Linked DNA regions of Homo sapiens: regions 2, 3 and 4 are each linked to region 1. Evidence: fine-mapped QTL for protein levels in blood plasma. A gene starts in region 1. Each other region holds a variant in brackets. All regions are shown on one strand. Distances are from middle to middle.

Region 1 (5,138 bases):
AATGTTCATGCCATCATGGACATACAGGGAGGCAGTAGACCCAGGCCCTTGTCCAGACTCGGCCTCTAGCCATCTATGAAGACTTGGACTAGTTATTTCCCTTCTTTAGATGTATCTTCTTTGTCTGTCCAAAGAGGAGAATGACATCTGCACTGTCAAGGTAGCAGAAAAACTATGACTCTTAAATGATTCTTTCAGGGGTTAACATACATCTTCCAGTTTCAGAAGCAGAGGCGAAAGCCTTCCTATGCTTTGGCTTTTTCTCCACTAAATAGGCAGGAGAAATATTTTAGGTTAATAAAAATGCAAAAAAATAGTCAAAGTAAAAAAACTTAATTGTCAAAGAGGGCTGAATTAAAATTCACTAAGTGCTAAGAGTGGTTGGGGGAAGGAGAGTGCTGGAAATCCCAGCCTATTATGACAAAACCTCTCTTCTTTTTGATAACACTATCTAGTCCATTAGCCTGAAGAGCCAAGTGGGTCTCCTCCCTCCTTGCTGCCTCACCCTTCCCAGCTGATTCTTATGACTTGCCTCAGGCCCTTTCTCCTGACCTGCGGGTAAAGTGGGCTGAAATACAGCCCGGGGCTCACCTCTGCATAAGGCTTGTCCTCTGCGATCTGGGCCAGTGGATCACTGCTGGCCAACAGCCGCGCCACTTCGCTGTTGGAACCCATCTTCCCCCAGGCATACTGCTGCACCGCACAGGAAAGTGGGAATACTAGGGGCACAGACAGGGTCAGCTGCCACTCCACTCCTCAGGCCCCACCCTAGTGTCCCGGGAAACCAGGCAAGAGCTGGGGGTGCTCACTGGGGACAGAGTCAAATAAGGGTTTTGTAGGCTGTTGGATGAGACCCCCCTCCGCTGCAGGCCTCGATGTTCCCAACTGTCAGATGGGCAGCAGTAAGGACCTTGTGCTGATCTGAGGCAGGGTGGCGGGGAGGGAGCAGAAGGTACCTATCCCACGGCACGACGTCTAGAAGGGCCCCCTCCCCTCGGAGGTCAATCCCCATCGCAGGTGGCCACACCTCTGCCCGGCACCCACCCATCTTTCCGCGGAATGCCAGGAGCGGACTCAACCTGGCCGATAATGCCGGGAGTCGTCCCCAGGACGCGCTCCACGAACACACTCGCCGACACCCCAGCCAATGGCTCACCTCGCGGAGCGGCCATGCTCGCCCCCTGCACCAGGATTAAGCACGTATGCCTTTCCCGGCAGCCCCCGCGGCCCTCTGCGCCCAGAGCTTCACGGGAAATGTAGTTCCCTGAGCGTTCCGCCAGGCCCCGGGGCACCCGTGCCCAGAGGCTTACGGCCGCGATCTTCGGTCTCACTATTCATTCATTCTTTCCATCGCCGGGCACAGATGTACTGAAAACCTGCTAAGTACCACGGACTGTTCTAAGGGCTGGAGGATACATCAGAGAGCAAGATAGCCTTCCCTCTGCCTTTGTAGAGCGCTTACATTCTGGTGAAGGCAAGACAGACAAGTATTGTAAGCAAATCATGTAGTATGTTGAAAGGTCAAGGCCACAAAAAGTAAGGGGGCAGGTGGCAGTGGGAGGCAGTTTGCAGAATATAAAAGGCTGTCTGGGCAAGCCTCTTGAGGAGGTGAGGTTTGAGTCCAGACTTGGCGGTGAGGAAGGCAGGAGTGTTCTGCGGGGAGGAAACAGCCACAGCGGAAGCCAGAGCAAGGCGGGAATGTGGGACTGTGCCGGGCGTGTTGGGGAGGGAACTGCTAGCAAGGAGGCCACTGTGGCTGGAGCAGAGTGAGTAAGACAGGGGCAGTGAGGAGGTCAGAGAAGAGAGGAGGGGGGCAGAGCTTTGCAGGCTATTGCTATTGTGAAGACTTTGGGTTTTACTTCGAGTCTCAGCAATTACAGATTTGAGCAAAGAATTGCTGTGATGTGAGTAGGGACATACTAGTGATGATGATGGTAAATGTCACATGCAAGGCCCTTCACTGCTCTGAGCTTTGTAGAATGGGGTGAATAATGCCAGCCTGACATGCTTGTTGGAGGGTCAGATGGGATGACGTGAGACACCTATAAGGCAGTCAGCTCCCTGTGCTCCTCTGATCCTTCCCGTCCCAGGTGCTGTAGAAAGTCAGAACCCCAACTTCTACTCCAGGCTGAGCTGCTTACAAGTTGCACACACAGAAGTCAGGGGAATTACGAAGAGCTGTGCATAGGGAAGGATGGCCTTGGGCCTTGGCTCTGCAGTAATCTTGGCTATATCCTGTGGTGAAAGGCTTTGACATCCAGACCTTCTCAGTCAACAGCCTCCTAGGAGGAGGACAGTCAGTGGCTCAGGCCTGTAATCCTAGCACCTTAGGAGGCAGAGGCAGAAGGATTGCTTGAGGCTAGGAGCACAACAGTCAAAGCTCCGGGGAACCTGGAATGAGGAGTTACAGTCCTGACTCTACCCTCATCACCCCTGCAATACCCTCATTCCCACAGCCTCTACCATATGTGCCCAGGGGAAAGAGCGGGTGCCGTTTTCCCTGTAATCCTCTGCCCAGGTGTGGGTATCTATCTCACCTCCCCTGGGGTCCTCTGGCTCAAATAAATCAGCTTGCATTTTAAAGGAAGCTTTACCATGCACTAAGGAATAATAAAATGGATAATACAAGACTCATGACAGCCCCCCGCCTGGCCAGCCGCCCCGTCCGGGAGGGAGGTGGGGGGGTCAGCCCCCAGCCCGGCCAGCCGCCCCGTCCGGGAGGTGAGGGGCGCCTCTGCCCGGCCGCCCCTACTGGGAAGTGAGGAGCCCCTCTGCCCAGCCAGCTGCCCCGTCCGGGAGGGAGGTAGGGGGGTCAGCCCCCCGCCCGGCCAGCCACCCCGTCCGGGAGGTGAGGGGCGCCTCTGCCCGGCCGCCCCTACTGGGAAGTGAGGAGCCCCTCTGCCCGGCCACCACCCCGTCTGGGAGGTGTACCCAACAGCTCATTGAGAACGGGCCATGATGACAATGGCAGTTCTGTGGAATAGAAAGGGGGGAAAGGTGGGGGAAAGATTGAGAAATCGGATGGTTGCCGTGTCTGTGTAGAAAGAGGTAGACATGGGAGACTTTTCATTTTGTTCTGTACTAAGAAAAATTCTTCTGCCTTGGGATCCTGTTGATCGGTGACCTTACCCCCAACCCTGTGCTCTCTGAAACATGTGCTGTGTCCACTCAGGGTTAATGGATTAAGGGCGGTGCAAGATGTGCTTTGTTAAACAGACGCTTGAAGGCAGCATGCTCGTTAAGAGTCATCACCACTCCCTAATCTCAAGTACCCAGGGACACAAACACTGCGGAAGGCCGCAGGGTCCTCTGCCTAGGAAGACCAGAGACCTTTGTTCACTTGTTTATCTGCTGACCTTCCCTCCACTGTTGTCCTGTGACCCTGCCAAATCCCCCTCTGCGAGAAACACCCAAGAATGATCAATAAAAAAATAAAAAATAAATAAAAAAAAAAAAGACTCATGAAACAACGTACTCAATACCTCGTGCTTTGGAATACCACTCCTTTCCCTCATCTCCACTACCCAAGTGATATGATTTGGCTCTGTGTCCCCACCCAAATCTCATCTTGAATTGTAATCCCCACATGTTGAGGGAGGGACCTGGTGGGAGGTGATTGGATCATGGGGGTGGTTTCCCCCATGCTGTTCTCATGATAGTGAGTGAGTTCTCCCAAGAGCTGATGGTTTTAAAGTGTGGCACTTTCTCGCTCTCTCTCCTACTGCCATCTAAGATGTGCCTCGCTTCCCCTTTGCCTTCTGTCATGATTATAAGCTCCTGAGGCCTCCCCAGCCATGTAGAACTGTGAGTCAATTAAACCTCCTTTCTTTTTTTTTATTTTTTCTTTTTGAGTATTGAGTCTTGCTCCGTTGCCCAGGCTGGAGTGCAGTGGCATGATCTCAGCTCACTGCAAGCTCTGTTTCCCAGGTTCAAGTGATTCTCCTGCCTCAGCCACCCAAGTAGCTGGGTGCACACCACCATGCCCGGCTAATTTTTGTATTTTTAGTAGAGGCGAGGTTTCACCATTTTGCCCAGGCTGGTCTCGAACTCCTGACCTCAGGTGATCCACCTGCCTTGACTTCCCAAAGTGCTGAGATTACAGGCATGAGCCACCGCGTCAGGCCAAACCTCCTTTTTTTTTTTTTTTTGAGATGGAGTCTCACTCTGTCACCCAGAGTAGAGTGCAGTGGCACGATCTTGGCTCACTGCAACCTCCGCCTCCCGGGTTCAAGCGATTCTCCTGTCTCAGCCTCCCAAATAGCTGGGACTACAGGCACGTGCCACCATGCCCGGCTAATTTTTGTATTTTTAGTAGAGACGGGGTTTCACCATGTTGGCCAGGCTGGTCTCAAAATCCTGACTGCAGGTGATCCACCCACCTCAGCCTCCCAAAGTGCTGGGTTACAGGCATGAGCCACCATGCCTGGCCCAAACCTCCTTTCTTTATAAATTACCCAATTCAGGTAGTATCTTTATAGCAGCATGAAAACGGACTAATACACCAAGCAATAGGAACCTTCTCAGATAAGAACGAGGGACTAATGAGGCTCAAGGAGTTCTTGGAGCACTCCCCACTACCACTACCACAGAAAACAGAGTCAGGGTTATTTGCTCATAGTATCCCTGCAAAGTGAAGGAAGAACTTAGATTGTTGGGAGATACAGACCACCCCCCAACCCCATGCCACCCTCCCCCAATACAGAAAAACTTATCTGTAAGAGAAACTAGGGTGTTTGGAGAACCTAGAACCTTCTACTTCTTCCCTCTTGCTGGTCTATCTTGAGAAAAGAGATTTTATCTGAGGAATGTGCATCCTTTTATATTATCAGGCCCAGAGAGACATTGATATGGAGGACAGACCCTTCTTAGGTGCCCCTCTGGCCCGCAAGTATGGAGATAAAGGGAAAATTTTGAGTCCCTTCAAGGGAGATTTCAGGAACTAGCTAGCCCTGCACCCAGCAATTAGGGAAGTAAATGAATAACCCACCAAGGAAGAAGGTAATAGTAACTTAAGCAGCCACCCAAGTAAGCCAGAGTCACAAGATGTTTAGTTCTCTATAAAAACTAAAGATAGGGGCTGGGCGTGGTGGCTCATGCCTGTAATCCCAGCACTTTGGGAGGCCAAGGCGGGCAGATCA
Region 2 (5,154 bases), 700 kb before region 1:
CTGACCTCAGGTGATCTGCCCACCTTGGCCTCCCAAAGTGCTGGGATTACAGGCATGAGCCACCGCGTCTGGCTGGAATGATGTCTAAAATTTTTATTGGGGCTCAGTCATGTGGACCTGATTGTCTGCCCATGTGACTGACCTCAGTCTCCAGCCCCTCCATAAGTCTACCTGATAAAGTGTGATCCAAAGTCTTCCCTCCTCCCTCATCACATTGCTAAACTATCTGGTACGCCCCAAAGACTTCTGCCTAAATCACATTGTTAGACTGTCCAGTGTGGCCTAAGGTCTGCCTCCTGGTAAACAAAGATACTTTTATCAGGCAAGACATTCCAAGGGCTTAGAGGTTACCTCCCAGGAGCGAAGGGCAAAGGCCAGAACACTCTTTGCAAGGTTAAGTTCTTTACTACATACTCCTTCTATTAGCTAGCAAGTTCCATGAGGTCAGGAACCTGGTCTTCCTCATCTTTAGGTCCCCAGTGCCTGGCATTATGCTTGGCACTTGTTACGTCAATAACTTTTAGTTGAGTGAATGAAGAAATACTAAGGTGGAATGAGAATGCACCCTGGAGGAGAGCCCCTCCTCTCTGCTGCTGCACAGAGGAGTGACCTTGCTGAGAAAGCTAAATGGAGGTGTGTGGCAAGCTGCTAACAGGTGCTTGGATATACTGCAGACTTTTAGGAACAAGAACTATATTTAGTTCTGTGTACGTGATTAAAAGGATAGCTTAAAAACTAACTTTGTACATTGGAAAAGGGAAAGGCAATCACCCTAGCTGTCCTTTCTAATAAAGAAATGAGACTGGGCATGGTGGTTCACACCTATAATCCCAGTGCTTTGGGAGGCCAAGGCAGGAGGATTTCTTGAGGCCAGGAGTTCCAGACCAGCCTGGCCAACAGAGCGAGACCTTGTCTCTACAAAAAATTTAAAAATTAGTTGGGCATGGTGATAGGTGCCTGTAGTCCTAGCTGCTTGGAAGGCTGAGGTAGGAGGATCTCCTATGGCCAGGAGTTAGAGCTGCAATTAGCTATAATTATACCATTGCACTCTATACAGATAGATATTTTTTAGAGATGGGATCTCAACTACATTGCCCAGGCTGGTCTTGAACACCTGGGCTCAAGCAATCCTCCCATCTCGGCCTCCTGAGTGTCTGGGGCTACAGACGTGCACCACTGTGCCCACCTTTCTTTCTTTTGGCAGGGTGGGGTGAATCTTTTATAGCCAAATCATCTTTTTTTTTTTTTTGAGATGGAGTCTTGCTCTGTAGCCCAGGCTGGATTGCAATGGTGCAATCTCGGCTCACTACAACCTCCGCCTCCCGGGTTCAAGCAATTCTCCTGCCTCAGTCTCCTGAGTAGCTGGGATTACAGGCACGCGCCACCACGCCCAGCTAATTTTTGTATTTTTAGTAGAGATGGGGTTTCACCACATTGGTCAGGCTGGTCTCGAACTCCTGACCTCGTGATCCACCCGCCTCAGCCTCCCAAAGTGCTGGGATTACAGGCGTGAGCCACCACGCCCAGCCTCATATCATCTTTATAGCACAACACAAGTCTCTTTTATAGGCAGTAGAAATTTTGGAGCAATGTTTGAGAGGAGCTTTGGATTTTAGAAATAAAAATGTTTGGTGGAGAAGGTTATAAAATTCCAACTCCAGCATTGGAAGTATGTCTATTCTTAAACCCAAATAAATACAACAAAAGAGAGGGGAAAATGGTAAGATATGTCTCATAGATAAAGTGGCCATCTTCCTTGATTCAGTCATTCAACACATTTATCAAGGGATTGCCTACTATGTTCTAGGTTCTAGGTGCTGGGAGTTCAGGGGCCAACAGGACAGATGTGGTTCCTGCCATCCTGAAGCTTACAATCTAGTAAGGCACACAAACACTAGGCCAATGAATGTAGAAACAAGTGCATAATTACAAATTGTGATCAGCTCTCTGACGAATAAAAGGGTGCTATGAGTCTCAGAAAGTGCAGTTCAGTTTAGAGAGTAATCAAGGAAGATCTTGCTGGGGAAGTGACTTTTGAGCTGAGACCTTAAGGATGAATCAGATATGTCTGGTGAAGAAGGTGCTGGGAGGGGAGGATAAGCTTTCTAGACAGAGACCTGAAACTTATGCTATTTTTTTTCTTTCTCTTTTTCTTTTTTGTGGGTACATCACATAGTAGATGTATATATTTATGGGTCACATGAGATATTTTCATACAGGCATGCAACGCATAATAATCACATCAAGGTAAATGGGGTATCCATCCCAGGCATTTATCCTTTGTGTTACAAACAATCCAATTATATTCTTAATTATTTTGAAATGTACAATTAAATTATTTTGTACTATAGTCACCCTGTTGTGCTAGCAAATACACCTTACTCATTCTTTTTTTTTTTT[C/TC]TAATTTGAGACAGGGTCTCACTCTGTCACCCAGGCTGGAGTGCAGTGGCGTGATCTCAGCTCACTGCAACCCCTGCCTCCCAGGCTCAAGTGATCTTTTTTGTATTTTTAGTAGAGACAGAGTCTTGCCATGTTGCCTAGGCTGGTCTCAAATTCCTGAGCTCAAGCCATCCACTTGCCTTGGCCTCCCAAAGTGCAAGGATTATAGGCATGAGCCATTGCACCTGGCTCTTATTCATTCTTTCTATTTTTCTGTACCCATTAACCATCCCCACTTCTCCCTCACCCCCCACTACCCTTCCCATCCTCTGGTTACCATCCTTCTACTCTTTATCTCCATGAGTTCAATTATTTTAATTTTTAGCTCCTACAAAATAAGTGAGAACATGGGAAGTTTGTCTTTCTGTGCCTGGCTTATTTCACTTAACATAATGACCTTCAGTTCCATCCATGTTGTTGCAAATGACAGGATCCCTCTCTCTCTTTTTTTTTTTTTTTTTTTTTGAGACAGAGTCTCACTCTGTCACCCAGTCTGGAGTGCAGTGGCACAATCTTGGCTCACTGCAACCTCTGCCTCCCAGGTTCAAGCGATTCTCATGCCTCAGCCTCCCAAGTAGCTGGGATTACAGGTATGCGCCACCACACCCGGTTAATTTTTGTATTTTTAGTATTTTTTTAAACAGAGACAGGGATTCATCATGTTGGCTAGGCTGGTCTTCAACCCCTGGCCTCAAGTGATCTGCCCCTCGGCCTCCCAAAGTGCTGAAATTACAGGCGTGAGTCACTGTACCCGGCCTCATTCTTTTTTATGACTTAATAGTTCTCCATTGTGTATCTGTGCCACATTTTCTTTATCCATTTATATGTTGATGAACACTTAGGCTGCTTCCAAATTTTAGCTATTGTGAATAGTGCAGCAGTAAACATGGGAGTGCAGATGTCTCTTCAACATACTGATTTCCTTTCTTTGGGGTATATACCTAGGAGGGGGATTGGTAGCTTTATTTTTGGCTTTTTCTTTTCTTTCCTCCCCTCCCTCTCCCCTCCCCTCCCACTCCCCTCTCTTCCCCTCCCCTTCCTTCCCCTCCTCCCTCCCCTTTTCCTCCTCTCCCCCCTCCCCTCCCCTTTCCTTCCCTCCCCTCCCCTTTTCCTCCCTTCCCCTTTTCTTCCCCTCCCCTTCCTTCCCCCCTCCTCCCCTCACCCCTCTTTTCCCCTACACCTTCCCTCCCTTCCCTTCCCCTCCCCTCTCCTCCCTTTTCAACAAGGTCTGACTCTCTTGCCCAGGCTGGAGTGCAGTGGTGTAATCACAGTTCACTGCAGCCTTTATTTCCCAGGCTCAAGTGATCCTCACACCTCAGCCTCCCAAGTACCTGGGACTACAGGTGTGCATCACTACTCCTAGCTGATTTTCTTTATATTTTGTACAGATGAGGTCTCACTGTGTTGCCCAGCCTGGACTCAAACTCCTGGAATCTTGGACTCAAGTGATCTTCCTGCCTTAGCCTCCAGGCATGAGCCACCTCACCTGGCTATATTTTTAGGTTTTCTTTAGGAACCTCCAAATTGTTCTCCATAGTGGTTGTACTAATTTATATTCCCACCAAAAGTGTATGAGGGTTCCCTATTCTCCACATCCTTGCCAGCATTTGTTATTGCCTGTCTTTTGGATAAAAACCATTTTAACTGGGGTGAGATGGTATCTCATTGTAATTTTATTTTATTTTATTTATTTATTTATTTTGAGATAGAGTCTCACTCTGTTGCCCAGGCTGGAGTGCAGTGGCGCAATCCGCCTCCCGGGTTCAAGCGATTCTCCTGTTTCATCCTCCTGAGTAGCTGGGATTACAGGTGTGCACCACTGTGCCCTGCTAATATTTGTATTTTTAGTAGAGACGAGGTTTCACCATGTTGGCCAGGCTGGTCTTGAACTCCTGACCTCAAGTGATCCACCTGCCTCGGCCTCCCAAAGTGCTGAGATTAAAGGCATGAGCCACCATGCCTGGCCTCATTGTAGTTTCGATTTGCATTTCTCTGATGATCAGTGAAGTTAAGCATCTTTTTATATGCCTGTTGAGATTTAAATGTCTTATTTTATAAAATGTCTGTTCTGGGCTGGGTGTGGTGGCTCACGCATGTAATCCCAGCACTTGGAGAGGCTGAAGTGGGTGTATCATCTGAGGTCAGGTGTTCAAGACCAGCCTGGACAATATGGTGAAACCCCATCTCTACTAAAAATACAAAAATTAGCTGGGCATGGTGGTGGGCGCCTGTAATCCCAGCTACTCAGGAGGCTGAGGCATGAGAATTGCTTGAACCCAGGAGGCGGAGGTTGCAGTGAGCTGAGATCGCATCACTGCACTCCAGCCCGGGTGATAGATTGAGACTCTCTCTCAGAAAAACAAAACAAAACGTCTGTTTTGGGCCGGGCGCGGTGGCTCACGCCTGTAATCCCAGCACTTTGGGAGGCCAAGGCGGGCAGATCACCTGAGGTTAGGAGTTCGAGACCAGCCTGGTCAACATGGCGAAAGCCTGTCTCTACTAAAAATACAAAAATTAGCCGGATATATATGTAGAAAGCTGAAACTGCATCCCTTCCTTACACCTTATACAAAAATTAATTCAAGATGGATTAAAGACTTAAATGTTAGACCTAAAACCATAAAAACCCTAGAAGAAAACCTAGGCAATACCATTCAGGACATAGGCGTGGGCAAGGACTTCATGACTAAAACACCAAAAGCAGTGGCAACAAAA
Region 3 (5,154 bases), 130 kb after region 1:
GGATTGTTGTTTTTTTTTTTTTTTTTGCTTTTTGTTTTTTGACATGGAGTCTTGCTCTGTCACCCAGCCTGGAGTGCAGTGGCGCGATCTCAGCTCACTGCAACCTCCGCCTCCCTGGTTCAAGCAATTCTCCTGCCTCAACCCCCTGAGTAGTTGGGATTACAGGCACGTGCCACCACGCCCGGCTAACTTTTGTATGTTTAGTAGAGACGGGGGTTTCACCATATTGGCCAGGCTGGTCTCGAACTCCTGACCTCGTGATCCGCCCGCCTTGGCCTCCCAAAGTGCTGGGATTACAGGCATGAGCCACTGCGCCCGGCCTGGATTTTTTTTTTTTAATAGGAACTCTATATATTAAAGAAATTAACCTTTAATCTGTGCATCATTCAGGGTCCCCAGCAGGAAACAGTTTAATTCGAGGAAGGATTAATACAGAGATTATTACACGGGGTTAGGCAGGGAACGGTGGGGGCCCTGAGAGGGTAGTGCCTGAAGAATGCTACTGGGGGAAAGAGCTGCATGGAGAGGATTGCCTCAGAGGACACATCCCCATCTCCTGTGAGAGCCTCCATTCTATGAACCCGTCTAGGAGCCAGAGGGCCAGGGAGTCTGTGGATAGAAGCCCCACAGGTCAGCTTCCCCTCACAGAGCACGGGATGGAGGGGGACTGAAGGGGAGAACTGGAAGCCAACCGGCTTATGTTCCTTGTGTGTCTTCCAACTTGGTTATGATTCTTTGGAATGCAGAAATGATTGATTTTTATGCAGTGGAATCAGTCTTTTCTTTTGCCGCTTCTGGACCTGTGTCAAACTTAGAAAGGCTTTCTCCACTCTCATACTACTTTAAAAAAATCAATTCCTTGCCAGGTGTGGTGGCTCACACCTGTAATCCCAGCACTTTGGGAGGCCAAGGCGGGCGGATCACCAGGTCAGGAGATCAAGACCATCCTGGCAAACACGGTGAAACCCCGTCTCTACTAAAAAATACAAAAAATTGCCAGGTGCGGTGGCTCACGCCTGTAATCCCAGCACTTTGGGAGGCCAAGGCGGGCAGAACACGAGGTCAGGAGATCGAGACCATCCTGGCTAACGCGGTGAAACCCCATCTCTACTAAAAATACAAAAATATTAGCCGGGCGTGGTGGCGGGCGCCTGTAGTCCCAGCTACTCGGGAGGCTGAGGCAGGAGAATGGCGTGAACCTGGGAGGCAGAGCTTGCAGTGAGCCGAGTTTGTGGTGGAGGCACTGACCCAGAGCGCAGCCTGTCTGGTGTGCGATGGTTGCTGAAATTTGCCCAACTGTGCTCAGCTACTTGTTTTATCACTGTGGACCCCCAAAACTCTGGGCAGGGCCTCAGCTTCCCGCCCCCCACTACTGCTGTCCAAGGAGGTAGAGTTACCAGTCCAGGTCTCCCAGCCCTCAGATGTAACCATGGCCCGCCAGCAGGAGCAGAAGCATGCTTCCCAAACCTGCCTGATTACCCAGCCAGCCACCCCACTCCAGCCCCCACCTTGGAGGAAGCACTAATCTGGGGACTTTGAGATTCCATGATTCTCACGGCAAGAAGGACTCTCAGACACGCGAGCCAGCGGCTCCCTTGGCCCTGAGGGCACAGGAGATAGAGGCACACCTGTAAACACATGCCTGGCTACAAACACGCACATACCTGGCTGGCGTGCTGAGCCACCTGAACTGACACCTGGAGAACTCACGCACAGGCATCCACCTGACCACTCCAGGCCACATCTGCCCATGCGCATGCACCCGCTGAGAGCTGGCACTCACGTCTGTTGTTGCCTTATCGACACACCCGAGACTAGGGTTCAAAATGCGTGCCCACGCCTGCTCCCAGCCCCTGCCGGCCCACTGGCACTTTCAGCTGGGCCACCCCAGGTCAGCAAGGCCCAGGGCAGGGTCAGTTTCAGCCAGGCCCCCCAACTCTTCATATTTTCTAGCTGGGGAAATTGATGTCCAGAGTTTCTGGTCAGCAGCCAGCCTGGTGGGGACCCTCTGAGCTATCCTGCTAAGTGTGGATAGGCACGGTGCAAGAACAGCTCCTCATCTGCTCCTGGCCTCCTCCCTGACCCCTGCCTTTAAGAGCCCCCATCTGATGGTGGAGCTGCTGAGACCCCTGGAATGAGTGTGATTGTGTATGAGAGAGAGAGAGGAATGCGGGCCTGTAAGGGAAGTGTCACTACACAAATGAAACTGAGCTGAGTGTTCCAAAAATTTGGGGGGAGAGCATCCCCCAGCCCTCAACAGCATGCCCTGTGCTCTCCAGAGGCATTTCTGGGACCACACCCCTATCTGCAGCACAGGCGTTTTGGCCACTCTGAGCTGGGCCCTTCTCTCTCTCATGTTTTCTGGCTCAGCTGCTGGGTCCCTGATCACCCCTAGTCTGGCTCCTTTCCCTCAGCCTCTCATGCAGTTGGCCAGCATTCCTCGAGACGACTCCGGAACAGGCTACACACGGGGGACACAGAGATGAATGAGAACAGGGCCCTAGACTCTTGTGGGGAACCCAGCCCAGCCCCAGAGAGAGGGTCTGGGACCATCTTCTCTGAAAGAGGGGGCGGGGGAAGCCAGTCCAGGTGGTGAAAACAGGATGTCCCAAGGGTGGCAGGCCTGGAGTGCACAGAGGCCCGCCCCTTGAGCAGCATGGGGGTCTCCAGACTTCCCTGGGGCAGACGTCAGGGGGGCGGCGGCCTGTCCCACTGGGAGGTGAGTTTCCTTCCGGCAGCTCCTTCTCACGCAATGGGCGGGAAGGGGTTGGGGGCCCATTGTT[C/G]CCTGGCACGCTACCACCCCCAGCCCTCCCCAGCTTCTGGGTGGGGGGAGCAGTGGAAGGAAGTGGGCTGAGCCCAGGCCCTGGCAAGACCCCAGTGAGAGAGCGCAGGGTTTGGGGAAATGCTGGCTCACGTGTGGGCCTGGTGTGTGCACAGCTGCACATGCCACACGTGTGTCGGGGGTCCATCTTGCCCTGAGTCCACCTTTCTCAGGATTTCTGGTGTGTGTGTGTGTGTGTGTGTGTGTGTGTGTGTGTGTGTGTGTGTTGTACCCTGACCTGTAATTTGGCACTTTACACACATTATCTCATTAAACCTCCCACCCAACCTGTAAGATAAGATTATCATCCCCAGTTGCGAGATGAGAAAGTCTAGACTCAGAAAGTTTATGTCACAGGCCCAAGGTTAGTGGGTGAGCTGGGATTTTCTTCTGGATCTGTGAGCCAGCCTCTGGTCTCATCTCTTTTCCCTTTCCCAAGCCCTGTAATTATCTTAATACTGGCCTGGGGTGGAGGGGTAAATACAGAGGTGAAGGCCTGGGGGAACCTATTGAGTATCACCTATGCCACTATGTTATCTTAAACCCAGAAAAACCCGCTGGGCTGCAGGGCCCACAGGGAGAGTGCAGGTCCCTCAATGCAGAGCAGAGTCTGCTTCCCTTATTAGTGCAGGGTGATGGGCATCGGGCAGGCTCCTTGCCCAAAAGTGCCCCCCTCCGCCCCATTGCACTGCCTGAGAGGCTCCATCGCAGCTGTACTCCAGAGGACTCTAGTGAACCTGGTGTTATGTCATGGCAGAGGGGTGGACAGAATGCAGGGTCTCAGAACTAATTTTGAGGGGGATCACTAAAGAATGGGGAGCTTGGCTCAGGGTATGGCTACCTCTGGTGGCAGTCCCCTCTCAGGGACAGGAGCCAGTGATAGGGATAAGATATAGGGCAAGCTCATGGACTGACGCTGAACTGCATAAACCCTGGTCTAGTCAGCCTCTGCTTGGTTCCCCCACCCAGATGGTATACTCACTACCATTCTTTCAGAGAGTCTGCACCCTCCTCAGATTCCTTTGTCAACTGGAAAATCCTTCCTTGGGGGGCAAGTTACTTTAAGACTGAGATTTGGCTGGGCATGGTGGCTCATGCCTATAATTGCAGCACTTGGGGAGACCGAGGTGGGTGGATCACCTGAGATCAGGAGTTCGAGACCAGCCTGGACAACATGGTAAAATCCCATACTCTAATAAAAATACAAAAATTGGCCGGGCACGGTGGCTCACGCCTGTAATCCCAGCACTTTGGGAGGCCGAGGCAGGCGGATCACGAGGTCAGGAGATCGAGACCATCCTGGCTAACACGGTGAAATCCCGTCTCTACTAAAAATACAAAAAATTAGCCAGGTGTGGTGGCGGGCGCCTGTAGTCCCAGCTACTCAGGAGGCTGACGCAGGAGAATGGTGTGAACCCAGGAGGCAGAGCTTGCAGTGAGCTGAGATCGCACCACTGCACTCCAGCCTGGGCGACAGAGCGCGACTCCATCTCAAAAAAAAAAAAATTGGCTGGGCATGGTGGCACATGCCTGTCGTCCCAGCTACTTGGGAGGCTGAGGCAGGAGAATTTCTTGAATCCAGGAGGCGGAGGTTTCAGTGAGCCGAGATCGCACCACTGCACTCCAGCCTGGGCGACAGAGCAAGACTCCACCTAAAAAAAAAAAAGAGAGAGAGAGGCTGAGATTTATCTGGGCAGATCTGGGTGAGGGAGACCCCAGTGACTGAGTTCATTTGCATAGGGACTGAGTGGAATCCTGGGAGGGAGGTCACCCTTAGGGAAAAAAGAGCCAGGCAAGACCACCTGACCCAGTGTTCCAACCTTAGTTAGAGCAGTGTAAGCTGGTTTGCAATGGGGTGTGTGTTAAAGCTATTTCTAATTTGTTGTTAGGAGGTCTCAACCTGGGAGTCACGGGAAAAGATGAGAGCAAAGATAATTTTCTTTGTAGTGTGGGTGTGAGGAGAGGTGGGCAGAGCAGAAAAGTGACAAATGGAGGCTTTTGTGTGTTCCGCTAGCTTTCCGCTGTGCCATTGTTTCTTCCAGGACTTGTGTGCAGGGATCCCTTGCTGAGGTAGCTTAGACCCTGTGACCCTCACTCTGTTGCCTGTGGCTATTTACCAGGGTAAACATTGCTCCAAGGGGACCCAACCACTGACTGACTGTGGTCTCTGACCTGTGTAGCCTGGCTGAAAAAGATGAGCTGAGCCAATCAAACCCCTCTCTCAAGAAGCTGAAACTAGGCTGGGCGCGGTGGCTCACGCCTGTAATCCCAGCACTTTGGGAGGCGGGCGGATCACGAGGTCAGGAGATCGAGACCGTCCCCGGTGAAACCCC
Region 4 (5,154 bases), 610 kb before region 1:
GGTATGATTTCGGCCCACTGCAACCTCCGCCTTGTGGGTTCAAGCCATTCTGTGCCTTAGTCTCCCAAGTAGATGGAATTACAGGTGTGTGCCACCACACCCAACTAATTTGTGTGTGTATATATATGTGTGTGTGTGTGTGTGTGTGTGTGTATGTATGTTTGTTTATTTATTTATTTATTTATTTTGAGACAGAGTCTCACTCTCGGCCAGGCTAGAGTGCAGTGCCACGATCTCAGCCCACTGCAACCTCCATCTCCCGGCTCAAGCAATTCTCCTGCCTCAGCCTCCTGAGTAGCTGGGATTACAGGCGTGTGCCACCACACCCGGTTAATTTTGTATTTTTAGTAGAGATGGGGTTTCACTGTGTTGGCCAGGCTGGTCTCAAACTCCTGACCTCGGGTGATTCGTCCTCCTTGGCTTCCCAAAGTGCTAGGATTACAGGCGTGAGCCACCATGCCTGGCCTAATTTGTGTATTTTTAGTAGAGATGGGGTTTTGCCATGTTGGCCAGGCTGATCTCGAACTCCTGACCTCAAGTGATCTGCCCACCTCAGCCCTGCAAAGTGCTGGGATTACAGGCATGAGCCACTATGCCCAGCCTCCCTTGCAGTCTTGAATCAAGGAAATATGTTGGAGCAGGGAGGCATGCTAGGCTGATCTAAGAGGATGCACACTTATCCTGGGGATTCTTCACCTTGCTCTCGGTGCTTTTGCAACTACCAGCTGCTGTGAGGCCCTTGAGATGTCATTTCTACTATGGAGTCTCCCCTCCTCCATTAAAAAAGTGGGTTTGGCTGGGCGCGGTGGCTCACGCCTGTAATCGCAGCACTTTGGGAGGTTGAGGCTGGCAGATCACGAGGTCAAGAGATTGAGAACATCCTGGCCAACATGGTGAAACCCCGTCTCTTCTAATAATACAAAAATTAGCTGGGTGTGGTGGCACGCACCTGTAGTCCCAGCTACTTGGGAGGCTGAGGCAGGAGAATCACTTGAGCCCAGGAGGCGGAGGTTGCTGTGAGCCAAGATCATGCCACCGCACTCCAGCCTGGGCGATAGAGCAAGACTCTGTCTCAAAAAAAAAAAAAAAAAAAAAAAAGTGGGTTTAGATCGTCTTGTTGCCATCATCCAAACCAGCTACCATTTGACAATCAGAGAACAGATCTCTCATCTAATGAGAGGACTTCCTAGTCTTGCCTATTGAATGACTGATTCCCCACTTTATGATTTAGAACCTAGAATCCTCATCAGCTCCAAGCCTCTGACTTACACCAACTCCCAGTAGAGCTACTTACAAAGAACAAACTGTGTCTCCCTTGGAATTCTGGATTATGAAGTGGCTATCAGTGTATATTCACTCTTGCCCAGGATTCCCCTGGACCAAGAGACTTTCTTTCCCTTTTCTCTTTTTACTTTTTCTTATAATTGTAGATTCACCTGCAGTTGTAAGAAATAATGGAGACAGATTACATGTACCCTTTCTACAGTTATCCCATGATAACATCTTCCAAAACTATAGTGTAATATCACAGCCAGAATGTTAATATAGATACAATCCACCAATCTGATTTAGACTTCCCCAGTTTTACTTCATTTTTGTGTATTTAGTTCTGTGCAGTTTTGTCACACATGTAGGTTTGTGTATCTGTCACCATAATCAAGATACAGAGTTCTGTCACCACAAGGCTCCCCTCGTTGCCCTTCATTATTTTTATTTTACACTTGATCTTAGCCAAAAGACTGAGAAGCGATCAATATTTTTATTTTTATTTACTTATTTTTTTAAGACAGAGTCTTGCTCTGTCACCCAAGCTGGAGTGCTGTGGTGCAATCTCAGCTCCCTGTAACCTCTGCCTCCCAGGTTCAAGCGATTCTCCTGCCTCAGCCTCCCAAGTAGCTGGGATTACAGGCGTGCACCACCATGCCTGACGAATTTTTGTATTTTTACTACAGTCAGGGTTTCACCATGTTGGCCAGGCTGATCTCAAACTCCTGACCTCAGGTGATCCACTCACCTCGGCCTCCCAAAGTGCTGGGATTACAGGTGTGAGCCACCGTGCCCAGCCTCATTGCCCTATAGTAAACATATACCTCCTTCCCACCACCTCCCCATTCCTAACCCCTGCAACCACTAATCTATTCTCCATTTCTCTAATTTTGTCCTTTCCAAATTGTTGTTATATCAAGTAACATTACATAAAATGTAAAAAAATTACATACATACTGTATGTAATCTTTTAGGATTGGTTTTATTCACTAGGCATATTCGTATAGGAAGGGAGAAATATATATATATATTTCTCTGAGATGTGGTCTCGCTCTGTCGCCCAGGCTGGAGTTCAGTGGCGTGATCTCAGCTCGCTGCAACCTCCGCCTCATGGGTTCAAGTGATCTCCCGCCTCAGTCTCCCAAGTAGCTGGGATTACAGGTGCCTGCTACCACGCCCAGCTAATTTTTTTTTTTGTATTTTTAGTAAAGATGGGGTTTCACCATATTGACTAGGCTGGTCTCCAACTCCTGACCTCAGGTGATCCGCCAGCCTCAGCCTCCCAAAGTGCTGGGATTACAGGCATGAGCCACTGCGCTGGGCTGAAATTTTTTAAGATTTTACAGACAACTATGTTCCTACCACAGAATCAACACTGACTCTTGTTAATATTTTGTTATATTTGCTTCATCTTTTTTTTTTTTTTTTTGAGACAGAGTTTTGCTCTTGTTGCCCAGGCTGGAGTGCAATGGTGTGACTTCAGCTCACTGCAACCTCC[G/A]CCTCCTGGGTTCAAGCGATTCTCCTGCCTTAGCCTCCCAAGTAGCTGGGATTACAGGTGCCCGCTACCAAGCCCAGCTAATTTTTTGTATTTTTCATAGAGACGGGGTTTCGCCATGTTGGTCAGAGTGGTCTCGAGCTCCTCACGTCAGGTGATCCACCCACCTTGGCCTCCTAAAGTGCTGGAATTACAGGCATGAGCCCCCACACCTGGCCTTTTTCTTTCTTTTTAAGAGAGACATGTGTTCTTGCTCTGTCGCATAGGTTGGAGTGCAGGTGCAGTGGCACTGTCATAGCTTATGGCAGCCTTAACCTCCTGGGCTCAAGTGATTTTCTTGCCTTAGCCTTCCTAGTAGCTGGGACAAGAAGTATGGGGTGCCACACCTTGCTAATTTTTTTGAAGTTTTTGTAGAGATGGAGTCTTGCTCTGTTGCCCAGGCTGGTCTCAAACTCCTGGGCTCAAGTGATTCTCCCACCTCAGCCTCCCAAAGCACTAGGATTTTAGGCATGAGCCACTGTGCCCAGCTGTCTTTTTAATTATTATATGAGAGAAAGAATTTATTATAAAGTTGAAATTCCTTCTAATCCGCATCCTTAGTTCTCCCCACTCATCATAAGCAGCTACTAGTATGAATATGATATTTCTTTCTAGTTGATTTTGTTTATACTGTTATATATGCATAAGCACTCATGAACAATATAGAGTATTATTTTATATGTGTGACCTTTGTAATTTCTTTGCTTTCAGTTAATATATGCAAATAATTTTTTTCAAAACCAAACAGTTCTAAAGAAGACAAGCAATGACAAAATAAATAGCAAATTCCTATTTTACCCTCAGTTCCATTACCTATAATCATGTATTCAACTCTTGTAGCTGTTTCCCCTGGTATTTCATCCCTAATTCTAAATTAAAATGCTTATAATATGCCAGGCACAGTGGCTCATGCCTGTAATCCCAGCACTTTGGGAGGCTGAGGTGGGTAGATCGTTTGAGCCTAGGATTTCAAGACCAGCCTGAGCAACATGTAGAGACAGGTGGAAACCCTGTCTCTACAAAAATTACAAAAATTAGCTTGGTGTGGTGGCGTGTGTTTGTAATCCCAGCTACTTGGGAGGCTGAGGTGGGAAGCTCACTTGAGCCTGGGACGTTGAGGCTGCAGTGAGCCAAAATTGTGCCACTGGACTCCAGCTTGGAATACAGAGCGAGACCCTGTCTCAAAAAAAAAAAAAAAAGTTAATAATACTTTTAGTGACTTTTATTGTAGGTGCTCATTTAGCTCTTATACTATGTCTCCACTTTCATTTTGACTACTCTTCCAATAATTATATGTAACATTCTTAAATTGAATCGTCATTGTACATTATTATGACTATGTAAATTATTTTTACTGGAGAGCTACATGGGCTACTATGAAATGATCAAATATATTAACAATTTTTTTTTTTTTTTTAATTTTTAGAACAGATGGGATTTCACCATGTTGGCCAGGCTGGTCTCAAAATCCTGGCCTCAAGTGATTCACCTGCCTCGGCCTCCCAAAGTGCTGGGATTACAGGTGTGAACCACTACGTCCAGCCTTTTTTTTTTTTTTTGAGACAGGCTCTCACTCTCTCACCCAGGTTGGAGTACAGTGGCTCTATCTCAGCTCACTGCAACCTCTGCTTCCCAAACTCAAGCAATTCTCTCACCTCAGCCTCCAGAGTAGCTGGGACCACAGGCATGCTTCACCACGTCTGGCTAATTTTTTGTATTTTTGGTAGAGATGGGGTTTCGCCATGTTGCCCAGGCTGGTCCCAAACTCCTGAGCTCAGGCAGTCCACCTGCCTCAGCCTCCCAAAATACTGGGATTACAGGAATGAGCCACTACACCTGGCCTAATGATCTTATCAATTCAATTTTTTGTTTCTTCTGGAGTTAATTACCAGATTTTTTCATTTCCTTTAGTTTTCTGTATATGTTCCTCATTCTTTTTCTTTTGTTTTTTATTGTTGTTGTTGTTGTTTTGTTTTGTTGTTGTGGTTGTTGTTTTGATGTTGCCCAGGCTGGAGTGTAGTGGCGCGATCTCGGCTCACTGCAACCTCCACACCCTGGGTTCAAGCGATTCTCATATCTCAGCCTCCTGAGTAGCTGGGATTATAGGCACCTGCCACCTTGCCCAGCTAATGTTTTTTGTTATTTTTAGTAGAGACATGGTTTCACTATGTTGGCTAGGCTGGTTTCGAACTCCTGACCTCAAGTGATCTGCCCACCTTGGCCTCCCAAAGTGCTGGGATTGTAGGTGTGAGCCACCGTGCTTGGCCCTTCATTATTTTTCTATATGCCCAATCAGATTTATTTTACAGTGTTATCATTAGTTTCCAAGTGATTGAATGTATCAGATAATCAAT

Alleles and levels. Alleles are on the strand shown, and positions count from the first base shown. The strength of an association depends on the size of the effect and on how common the allele is.
In carriers of allele C in region 2, the plasma level of the protein whose gene starts at base 1,204 in region 1 tends to be lower than with TC alone (weak association).
With allele G in place of C in region 3, the plasma level of the protein whose gene starts at base 1,204 in region 1 is higher (strong association).
For the plasma level of the protein whose gene starts at base 1,204 in region 1, allele G in region 4 goes with a higher level than allele A (moderate association).

The links. PIP is the chance, under the fine-mapping model, that this variant and not a neighbour inherited with it causes the effect. Protein levels are from antibody-based Olink assays in UK Biobank. Linkage for the fine-mapping came from a reference panel and not from the study's own genotypes, which makes the PIPs less certain.
Region 2: its variant is fine-mapped to the plasma level of the MPI protein (UK Biobank, PIP 0.91).
Region 3: its variant is fine-mapped to the plasma level of the MPI protein (UK Biobank, PIP above 0.99).
Region 4: its variant is fine-mapped to the plasma level of the MPI protein (UK Biobank, PIP above 0.99).

The regions. Positions count from the first base shown.
Region 1 is chr15:74,886,108-74,891,245 of GRCh38, reverse strand. It overlaps MPI (mannose phosphate isomerase), which reads right to left and starts at 1,204. Exons shown (of 8, transcript NM_002435.3): 1 at 1,157-1,204; 2 at 592-719. The coding sequence starts at 1,172. RefSeq lists enhancers at 878-957, 755-1,288, 1,078-1,377, 1,538-1,587.
Region 2 is chr15:75,587,327-75,592,480 of GRCh38, reverse strand. No RefSeq gene overlaps it. Among named protein-coding and RNA genes, the nearest start is that of PTPN9, 11 kb to the right of the region's middle. The variant C/TC (reference allele first, on the strand shown) is at 2,401.
Region 3 is chr15:74,760,155-74,765,308 of GRCh38, reverse strand. No RefSeq gene overlaps it. Among named protein-coding and RNA genes, the nearest start is that of CYP1A2, 14 kb to the right of the region's middle. RefSeq lists a cis regulatory region at 1,577-1,675 and an enhancer at 1,568-1,682. The variant C/G (reference allele first, on the strand shown) is at 2,784.
Region 4 is chr15:75,495,344-75,500,497 of GRCh38, reverse strand. All of the region lies in intron 7 of PTPN9 (protein tyrosine phosphatase non-receptor type 9), which reads left to right. LOC105370902 (a long non-coding RNA gene) reads right to left here. Exons shown (of 4, transcript XR_932482.2): 3 at 1,295-1,436. Among named protein-coding and RNA genes, the nearest start is that of SIN3A, 46 kb to the right of the region's middle. The variant G/A (reference allele first, on the strand shown) is at 2,765.